Homo sapiens: one gene and its partners. The protein of the gene in region 2 interacts with the protein of the main gene of each other region in a pairwise test. Each region holds a gene or a part of one and is shown on either strand. Other genes may lie near its edges. The genes, in order: DBF4B, ROPN1 and AKAIN1.

Evidence for each region.
Region 1: the proteins of ROPN1 (region 2) and DBF4B interact in binary tests that used the Homo sapiens proteins (3 or more experiments, as listed by UniProt).
Region 3: the proteins of ROPN1 (region 2) and AKAIN1 interact in binary tests that used the Homo sapiens proteins (3 or more experiments, as listed by UniProt).

The regions. Positions count from the first base shown.
Region 1 is NC_000017.11:44,706,761-44,710,516, forward strand, and holds the start of DBF4B (protein DBF4 homolog B), read left to right. Parts: upstream 1-1,904; 5' UTR 1,905-2,060; coding exon 2,061-2,079; intron 2,080-2,091; exon of another isoform or gene 2,092-2,178; intron 2,179-2,539; exon of another isoform or gene 2,540-2,543; coding exon 2,544-2,606; intron 2,607-3,756. UniProt on the Homo sapiens protein: Regulatory subunit for CDC7 which activates its kinase activity thereby playing a central role in DNA replication and cell proliferation. Required for progression of S and M phases.
Region 2 is NC_000003.12:123,985,498-123,989,253, reverse strand, and holds part of ROPN1 (ropporin-1A), read left to right. Parts: intron 1-3,756. UniProt on the Homo sapiens protein: Important for male fertility. With ROPN1L, involved in fibrous sheath integrity and sperm motility, plays a role in PKA-dependent signaling processes required for spermatozoa capacitation.
Region 3 is NC_000018.10:5,142,272-5,145,274, reverse strand, and holds the end of AKAIN1 (A-kinase anchor protein inhibitor 1), read left to right. Parts: 3' UTR 1-2,364; downstream 2,365-3,003.

The DNA of each region.
Region 1 (3,756 bases), on a different chromosome or scaffold from region 2:
TTTTCGTTGCTTTTGATCTTTTGGTATTGCAAACAATGCTGAGGCAGATACCTTTATTATACAAATTCTGTCACACATGTGAAAAAAGAACATGCTGAACCATCTTGCCTCTTAAAGTTTCTGCTTGGAAGTGATGTCACTTTTTTCTTTTTTCATGAGCCAAAGCAAGTCATATGGCCAAGGCTTCGTTCGTTCATCAGGGCTGAGATGTATAAGCTTCCTCAGGGAGGAGTCCCACTGGAAGAGATACCAAGTTTATGTACTGTATATACCTCTACCAGTGTTTAAAAAATATCACCCTGGGCCAGGCGCGGTGGCTCACACCTGTAATCTCAGCACTTTGGGAGGCCGAGGCGGATGAATCACCTGAGGTCAGGAGTTCGAGACCAGCCTGGCCAACCTGGTGAAACCCCGACTCTACTAAAATACAAAAATTAGCCGGGCATGGTGGCAGGCACCTGTAATCCCAGCTACTCGGGAGGCTGAGGCAGGAGAATGGCCTGAACCCGGGAGGCAAAGGTTGCAGTGAGCCAAGATTGCGCCACTGCACTCCAGCCTGGGCGACAGAGCGAGACTCCCTCTCAATAAAAAAATAAATAAATATAAAAACTATCACTCTGGTTGCTGAATGGAGAATGGATTATACTGGGGAGAGATAGGAAGCTACTCGGGAGTAGAAGTGAAGAATTGACCGCAGTACTTTAGGCAAGAAATGATAGCAGCTTGAACTAGGGTGGTGGTGGTCTGATTCCAGATGTACTTTGGAGGCAGAGTTAGTAGGATTTTTTTCTTGGAGTGGGGATGGGCACAAGGGAAAGTACTGAAAGACAACTTCTAGGTTTTTGGTTTGAGCAACTGGGTGAATGATTGTGACATTTGAGTAAACAGTAACATTTTACTGAGAGGGGAAGACCTGGGGGGAGAACAGGTGGTTTTTTGACAGGGGCAGCGAAACAAATGTTCTGTTTTGAATGTGTTCAGCCTGAGGTGCCTATTAGACATCCAAATTGAAATAGCCAGTAGGCACTTGAATATGTGAGTCTGGAGATCAGACAGGTCAGAGCTACAGAAAATCTGAAGGTGTGGCAGAGCTGAATTGTAAAGCTGTGGAGCTGGATGAGATCTCCTAGGGAGATAAGGGAGAGGGATAAGGGCTAAAGCGTTGGCATACTCCAAAATATATAGGTGAACAGTGGCTTTGGATCCAGCAAAGGGGACTGAGGAGGAACCATTGAGATAGGGAAAAAAACGGTAGAGTGCTGAGTCATGGAAGCAAAAAGAAGAAAGTATTTCAAAGAAGGAATAGTCCATCTATAAGTTGGATATGATAAGGATAGTATTTCAGACTGTGGAAATCACAGTTGACCTGGATAAGTACAGTTTTTGTGGGGAGGTCCCCAGCTCTCCACTGAATGATCTCTTATTAGATCAAATTTGATCTCTAATTAGCAGTCTAATTAGATGGGTTGAAGAAAAGATGGGAAGTGAGGGATAAAGATACGTCTTTTGAGAAGTTTTGTTGGGCAGGTAATAATTGAAGAACGGGAGGGGGACAAAAATGTGAAGATGAAATGATGTGTAAGTGAAATCTTTATGTAAACTGCAAATGCTCTGCAAGTGTTAGGCTTATTTTGTTATTTAGTATTCAAACTTCTAGGAATTTCAATGCAGCTCAGTGTGAAGAATCACTAAAAAGCGACCACTAGTCCTCAACTTGAGGGCCATTAAGGGGCAAAGCCGTCTAGCCAGTGAAGAGCCAAGAAATGAAGAGACGGTTTGAGAAGACGTAGGCGGTGGGGGAACGGAAAGAGGAATCGCGAAACTAATATTGTCCTTCCAAGGACACCGTAGGGCGGATCTCGCAGCTACGGCGTTCTTTTAGGGGTGGAGCCGGCAGGAAATTTAAACTGAAGCCGCGGCCGAAAACGCCAAGAGATTGATGCTGTAGCTGCCCTGAGATAACCAGGACTGTGGAATCGGGAAGAGCTCATGGAGCTCGCGAATGTAATACGGAGGCCTCTGAGGAAGGAGTACGGAGGCCGAGAAGGAGCCGGCATTTGATGAGCGAACCGGGAAAGGGTACGGATGCCGGGAAGGGGAGAAAGAAAGGCGGAAGGGGTCGTTAATAGCTGAGGCGAGGTGCGGAGTCGTGGAGGGGGCTTAGGAAGTGACCAGCGGGTAGGTGCCGAAGCTGAGGAGGGTATAGGGGCCGGGAAGGAGCCACAGGAGTTGAGGGGACCGAGGAATGAAGGTGGCAGAGGAACGTAGGGGACAACAGCCTGGAGGGATGTATGGAGATTGAGATGGACAGGAGGTGGCCAAGAGGTCACGGCCGTTGACTGAACGGAGTCTGAAAGGAGGCGGAGGGCATGAGGGGCAAGAGCCTGGCGGGAGTCGCGGGATGTAGGTCGGAATGGAGTTGAGTCTTGCTGTTCCCAGGAGTCGCGTTTCTGTGCGCGTTTTGGGAGACAGTAGTGGGCGGGAGGCATGGAAGTTCCAAGGGTTGGTGAAGATGGTTGAGTTGCTGTTATGTCCTTTCTCAGGAGACGATTGCCTCGAGCTGGAGAGTTCCATGGCTGAGAGTAGGCTCCGGGCCCCGGACCTAGGTGGGTAACAGGACAGAACTAGGGACGTGAGGTGAAAATTGCCCCAGGGTCTCTTGGAGAAGACCGAAAAATGTTCCCCCTGTTGGAGTTTTCGATCACTCAGTGTTTTTATGTACTTATTTATTCATTTTATTTATTGGGATGGGGTCTTGCTGTGTTGGCCAAGCTGGTCTCAAACTCCTGGCCTCAAGCAGTTCTCCTGCCTAGGCCTCCCAAAATGCTGGGATTACAGGTGTGAGCCACTTCACCAGGCCCACTTAGTGGTTTTATGTGTGTGTGTGTATGGACGCAGCATCATAGACCGTTTTGGGATTCATGATAAAGGTCAAGTAAGAGTCATATTATGAACAAGATTAACAGACAGATGTGGAGTCAGGATAGAGTGACTTATTAAATATATAAATTAATACATTCATAGTTGTTTACAATAAAATCCTTAAGTTAAACACTGCTACCTAATTAGGTAAGTATTTTAGCACATGGCACTTCCCTCCGTACTGCCCCTTTAGTTAATATCATCTAGTTGGCCGGGCGCGGCTGCTCACGCCTGTAATCCCAGCACTTTGGGAGGCCAAGGCGGGCGGATCACGAGGTCAGGAGATTGAGACCATCCTGGCTAACACAGTGAAACCCCATCTCTACTAAAAATACAAAAAATTAGGCGGGCGTGGTGAGGCGTGCCTGTAGTCCCAGCTACTCAGGAGGCTGAGGCAGGAAAATTGATTGAACCCAGGAGGCGGAGGTTGCAGCGAGCCGAGATTGCGCCACTGCACTCCAACCTGGGCGACCGAGCGAGACTCCGTCTCAAAAAAAAGAAAAAAAAAATACCGTCTACTTTTACTTCTGGATTGTTAACAGATATGCCATCGGCTTGTTGCCTTTTAAACAGTAATCCACTTCATTTACTGAGTTATTCATTCTTCCCATCTCTTGTTGGTTTTTTTTCCCCCTTCTGTTTCTCTGGAGAACTTCAAGAGTGTTTTCAAAAGGAGGCTTTGTGTGATAAACTAAGAATATATTTATTTCAGCCTTGTAGTAAAATTTAAGTCAATTTTTTTTCCTTCAACACATTGAAAAATTACAGTATTTTCTCCTTGTTTTCTTCAGCATTTCTTTTTTATTCTTGCTGCTTTGTAAGTGACCTCCTTTT
Region 2 (3,756 bases):
GCCTTAGGCCCAACCACTCCTGCTTTGTCCACTTTAGAGCTCCATAATTACAGTTCCCTGAACTTGTCACGTTTCTGACAACCCCACATCTTTGCCTAAGTCCTTCTACCTACATGAAATTCTCTCCTTACTCTCATAAGTACACATATGCTTACTGAATACCTGCCCTGTACCCGGCTGTCTTCTGAGGGCTTGCAGTACAGCAATGAACAAACCAGGTTTTTCCAAGTCTCAGTTCAGATATCTCAGATATCACCACTCTTTGAAAAGTATTTTCTGACCTCCTTCTAATACCTGCAGATGTTAGATGCCTCATCCAAGAGTTTTTCTTCTGTTTTTCTTCTGTTCTTCTATATCTAGTGCAGGCTTCTTGACACTTATTATACCTTCTTTGAGTCACTGATTTTCCTGTCACTCTCTTCCACTGGACTGTGAGCTCCATGAAGCAGAGTGTGTGACTTATTTATTCATGTATCCCAGTATTCAGCACAATTCCAATAAAACACATAAATTTTGTCAGATTAATGATTTCCTAAGGATCACATAATTAGTCATAAATAGACCCAGGGCCAAAATCCTGGACTCCTGCCTCACAGTCAAGAGTGCTTCTTCACTACAGCTTCATCTGCCCTCTAGATGTTATGCCACAACTAGCTACGAAGGATAGCAGCCCTATGTTTTGCTTTGGAAAAGGCCAGTGCAATGCTGAATATCATCAGGAATGGTAATGGAAACTGAAGAGAAACATAGCCCTAATCTTATATTGGAAACTATAGTGCATTCACCCCCTCAGAGCCCTTGCTTGTAGGTTTTAAATCTCTGACTCACAGGAATGCTATAATGAAATCAGAAGTAGGAAGGACAACTTCTGATTGTCCTTCTGACCTGATTGTCAGCCTGACCAACATGGTGAAAACCCGTCTCTACTAAAAATACAAAAATTAGCCAGGTATGGCAGCACACACCTGTAGTCCCAGCTATTCAGGAGGTTGAGGCAGGAGAATTGCTTGAACCCAAGAGGTGGAAGTTGCAGTGAGCCAAGCTCATGCCACTGCATTCCAGCCTGGGTGACAGAGCAAGACTCCATCTAAAAAAAAAAAAATGTAGGAAGGACAAGTAAAAGATGAAAATGGTGTGGGGTATTATGACACTTACTCTTAATAAAGACTTTCATACTCTTATATAAGACAGGGCTAAGGTGACCCAAGTGTGTACACCAGGTCCCCAAATCAGGGAACCATGTTGCACAACTTTACAGGACATAGTTTACATGCCAGTCTGTAAATGAGCCATGTGTCCCTAGAATTGTGGATGATGATGCGAATGAACACGAGGGAAATCTTTGAAATATGAGCATGGCTTAGATAAACCAAAAGAGGTACCTATTCATTTGTTAAATAATAAACATGTAGAACTCATGCTTTCAAGAGGTAATACTAGCATGATATATAAGCAAGTTTGGGAAATTTGCTAATAAAGCCAAAAACTACTACTCAAAAAAAGGACAAGGTCAAGTAGGACTGCTCTTAGCAATATTGCTGTTGGCATCCAAATGCTGTGTTGACTTGGCCATGGGTTTGTCTCAGGATAGAAAAAGATCCAGGCTTCTGTGAAACACAGTTGAAGAAGGAAAGTTAATACGAATAAGGCAAATTGGGGAGATCTTGAAAGTCAGACAGGGCATAATTTTTATAAGAAAAGAGATGAAGATCCATTAAACGTTTTTCAGAGTTATGTAAAAACATGAGTGGTTAAGAAATTTTATTGGAGGGCAAGATGGCCAACTAGACGCAGACAAGTGGAACAGCTCCCACAGAGGAACTGAGATGACTGGAGTGCTTTTAACATGTCTTCAGAGGGAAGGCACAGACAGTGGACAGAGGGAAGGCACAGAAGCTTGGCTGAAGGGGGAGAAAGCTGGGAACCCCATACAGGCTACCATACACTGAAGCTCATTTTTGAACCACAACAGCTCTGGGGGAACGAGTGAGTTGAACTAGCAAGGAGCAACCTGCTCTCACCAGGGTCCACTGGAACCCTGGAAGGAGGGGACCCCTCAGTCACCACAGAAACTTGAGGTGGCAGGGAGAGCTGCTTAGAGAAGTAGGGCAGCAAGCCAGCTGATGTGGACCCCAGAGAGTTTGGTGTGGGAGTGTTTGTAGTACAGCATGGCCAGGGATGGCCATTCCACTAGGCTCAACTTGCTCCAATAAGAGACTTTAGCTGTAGGGGAACTGTTGGACCTGATCTCTGCAGGGCGGTCTTGTTCATCAGATGGGGCTGGTCTGATCTGAGCACCCCTTGGTCTGCTGGCCTCTTCCAGGCACAAGCCTGGCCATGCCTGCTTACAGGGCAGTCTCAGGTGCCTTGGGGGTCCACACCATAGCTTCTGCACTGGTGGACCATGCCTGATCAGTGGAGAGCTCCAGCAAGGTGGCCCCTATGGCTGCATGCTGCAGCCAGTACTTTCCCTCCCCATACTACAGCTTCCCTGAGCCCACAACAACTACCCACATCACTTTGCTGGCCCATGTCTGCACAGGCAGGTTTTGTTTTACTTGCCCCGCCAGCACACAAGAGTGTAGTCCACCCCTGCTGACCCCCACTGACTGCCACTGCAGACAGAGCCTTGGAGGGTACAGAACCAGCAAGCACCACCCCTGCCAACACCTTCCCTCGTGCTAACACTGTGCAGAGAACAGCAGATCCTCCTCCACCCTAAGCAACCACCCCTGCTTGCAGGACACAGAGAAGTCACCTGGACTTGCACCGGCCAGCACCCCACCCCCATTCAACACCACCTCCAGTGCAACAGCACACACAGTCTCCATCAGGGACCCCTGCTCCCCACAATAGCTGCCTTGCCTCTGCCACTGTGTGGTCATTTCAGGAACTTTTGTATGTCCCTGAGGACTTTGGAAACCATTTTTGTAATAATATTAATAAAAATTATTAATATTTAATTTTAAATTACCTTTTATGATGGAAAGTAAATAATATATATAAAGTACTTAAGGAGACTATAGGCCTTTTTGACTACAACAAATCAGTTTTCAAAGAAAATATGGCTGTCCTTAAGAATATTTTTAAATAAATCACATGAAATTTTTGAAAACTTAAGCATTTGGTAAGTAAAGGGGGAATTTTGGAAACATTATTTAATTTAGTAATTACAATTCTAGATTTTCACAAAATATAAATATCATTTATTTCAAGTATAATTTAAATATTTTGATTTTTTTTTTTTTTTTTTTTTTTTTTGAGACAAGGTCTTGCTCTGTCACCCAGGCTAGAGTACAGCGGTGTGATCTTGGCTCATTGCAACCTCATCCTCCCAACTCAGCCTCCTGAGTAGCTGGGACTATAGGCATGTGCCACCATGCCCGGCTAATTTTTGTATTTTTAGTACAGACAGGGTTTCACCATGTTGCCCAGGCTGGTCTTGAACTGAGCTCAAGTGATCCGCCCACCTCAGCCTCCCAAAGTGTTGGGTTTACTGGCGTGAACCACTGCACCCAGCCAAAAAATATTTTTATAAGACTTTACTGAAGGCCTAGAGTCTCCTTTACTAAATCATTAAATTATTTTCTATTATTTTTTTAGAGGCAAATGTTTATTATTTTTGTAAACAAACAAGTCATTACAAAAGTCCATTAAGTATCAGATTTTGGATATTTGTTTAACATCAAAAGCCAAGAATAAATAAGTCACAAACAAATCAAGTCACAATGGGAAAAAAAGTGAACAAAATCTACT
Region 3 (3,003 bases), on a different chromosome or scaffold from region 2:
AAAAAGAATTCTATGTCTCGTTTATTTACTTCTGCCTTTTATGCGTTCCTTCTGTGAATTTAACAAGCAGCCTTTTTGCTGAAATACTGAATACAGTACTGAGTTCTTTATGGTATATTAAAAAGACATGCTAGAAAGGTGAGGGAATGCAGTTTTAGTTACCTTCAAATGTGAAATTGAAGGCTTTAAGTGGGTTCAGGTCTAAGATCAAATTAAGAAAAGGGAAATTCTAAGGCTGAGTCCCTCGGGACCATACCAAGGCATTTACTAATATTTATGTTATTTTAAGAAAGGGAGGAGTTTAAGTTTCTCAAGAACTCAGTCTTTTAGTCTCAATTCTCTGAATGATTTCATAATTGGTGTTTATGCTCTGTGTAGAAATCTTTTGGGAATATTATGGATTTCTTTTCTCAAGATTAAATAAAATAAGACAAGTGAGTCTACACATGTGAGTTGCCAATGACTCATTTCCTTAGCAGCCTCATGGAGAATGGCTAGAAGTGTAGATTTCTTCAACAGCTGCCTATCATTAAGAGACTTACACTTGGGGCTGATTATGGGGTGCAACATCCTTGGAAGGGATTCTGGGGTCCTTAACGAATGCTGTTTTGCCACTAGGCTATGCATTTGCATTAGGACCTTACTAACTTTTCCCATTCACACATTAAATTTTTTTTTTGAGATTATGAAAATCATACAGGTCAGGAATACATGAGAACACAATGGGGACAGTAAAGTGACAGTGTTTTGAATGCAGTGACAGAGATATGTGTGTGTACACGTGTAATAAAGTTATCTGTGCAGCAACAGGATCAATCCCTGCTCCACTTCTGTGAGGATAATGCACATATTTCTGGAGTATCTACAGTCCCATTTCCTGGGCTTCACAAAAGTTATTGAATTGGTGCTATTGGGGACAGAGGAAGAATTTGACCTTGGTTAAAAACCTTCTAGTTTCAGAGTATCAATATCTACATTTGATTTTTTTTTAAAGCAAAGTATTCGGGTATAAATTGTGACTGATATTAAGATATACTTCTAAAATTCCAATATGCTACAGTTTCTAGAATAAATAGTTGGATAATAGATAATGAATGAAAAATATCTTACCAGCTTTGTTATGCTATCTCCCACAGTGCACAGGTGGAATAAATTCACAGGAAACATGGAAGGAGAAGGAAGCAGAAGGGCTTAAAATTTAAAGATTGTTTACTCACAAGTATTTCTTTTAGCAGAATTCATGCCAAGTGAAGAGTGAGTTTAAGTCGACCAAAAGTCATATAACTGATGTGATATAATTGCATAGCATACATAGTGAGAATGAAGGTATTCAGGGAAATTATTCAGGAGTGCCACAAATAAAATAAATAAATAAATCTAATGCTTGTAGTTTGTAAGTGATCTGGTACTATGTCTACTCAGATATCTGGATATGACCAGCCTTTGTTTTTGCTGTCAAGTGACAGAAACATATAAACATACTATTTTTCCTCTCTGATGTGTCTGTACTAAAAAATTGGGAATTTTTGGAACATCTTATTGACCTCTGTGTCTAAATGTTATTTATAAATAAAACACATACAGCTTTGAAATATCTTAAGCAAAGTTTTCTAGACTCTGCCGTTTGGCTCATTTTGTACGTGGATCTTACCATTATTTGGAACCATGAGACTTCCAAGGCTATTTTCAAACCCCTAGATATCATGACCAGGGGAAGTGCTTCCTTAATGGGCCCTTCACTGTGACTGTGTGAGGACAGCCATGGGATGGTGGGTCCTGAGGCTTGAAGAGAAAAGGATGTATGCTAAGAAGTGGTCTTTTGATCTAAAAAATTCAAGGTAAGTGGGTCTGGAAGGTAGAGTGTCTGCCATAATTTTTGAGATGGAAAATCGACAGCAAGGAACAGAGATATGACTAAGTTGTTGGGAGGACAAAAGGAGGTTCAGCAATGCCTGTCCTCAATAGGTAGGTGCCATATTGGCAAAATTCTAAGAAAGCTCAGTCATAAAAACAAACGAGTTAAAGACCTATAAACTTTTACAGATCTTTCAGTATGAAGAAAAAGTTACTAGATTTTACAAGGGGCCTACAGAACTTCATTTGACATAGGATTAAGGTGGATTTCCACTTGATTATCATCATAAACCAGATCACAGCTTTTAGTTTCAGAAATGAGTGGGAACATTTACTTAGTGTCCTTTATCTTTCTGATTTACTGCATACACAGGCTTCCCATCTCTGTGTGTTCAGCTGTTCGTCTTCTCTGTTGCCTGCCCCTAGGGTGGATCTAAAGAAAGAAATCCTTTCATGTTACTTTTCTCTGCTGTAATCATCTGTTCAGTGCAAACAGTATTGTAAATTGATGCAAAATGACTAACTCGTTCCCTTCATTTCTTTTCTTATTTATTTTTTAGCCGTTTAGGTTTCCTTTATGGTGGAATTTCAGGTTACAAAGAAATGAATCTATCATTTAAAAATAATCATTGAATTTATGCCATTCAAAGATGAGTAACTGGCCATCTTCCAGGCTGTTTTAAGGTTTCTATGATAAAACAATACAAAAGAGAGGGATCTTTAATTTATCCACTGTAATAGCTTAGTCTAGTAAAATACAGTAAAATAATAAAATCTATGAAAAATCTGAAACTAGTTTAGCCCCTATAATACCAAAACAGATGTAGAGACAGGAAAGAGGAAATTACGGTAATAATATCTTTCTTGAGCATGTGAAAGTTTTCGAAAGATATTAGTACAAATTCCCTCATTTATCTCATTGCCACAACCTCAAACTAAGGTGTAGCCTGAGAAATCTTGATATAGTTTGGCTGTGTCCCCACCCAAAATTTCACCTTGAATTGTAATCCCCACAATCCCCACATGTCAAGGCTGGGACCAGGTGGAGGTAATCGGATCATGGGGGCGGTTTCCCCTGTGCTGTTCTCATCAAAGTGAGTGAGTCTCATGAGATCTGACGGTTTTATAAGCATCTGGCATTTCCCGATT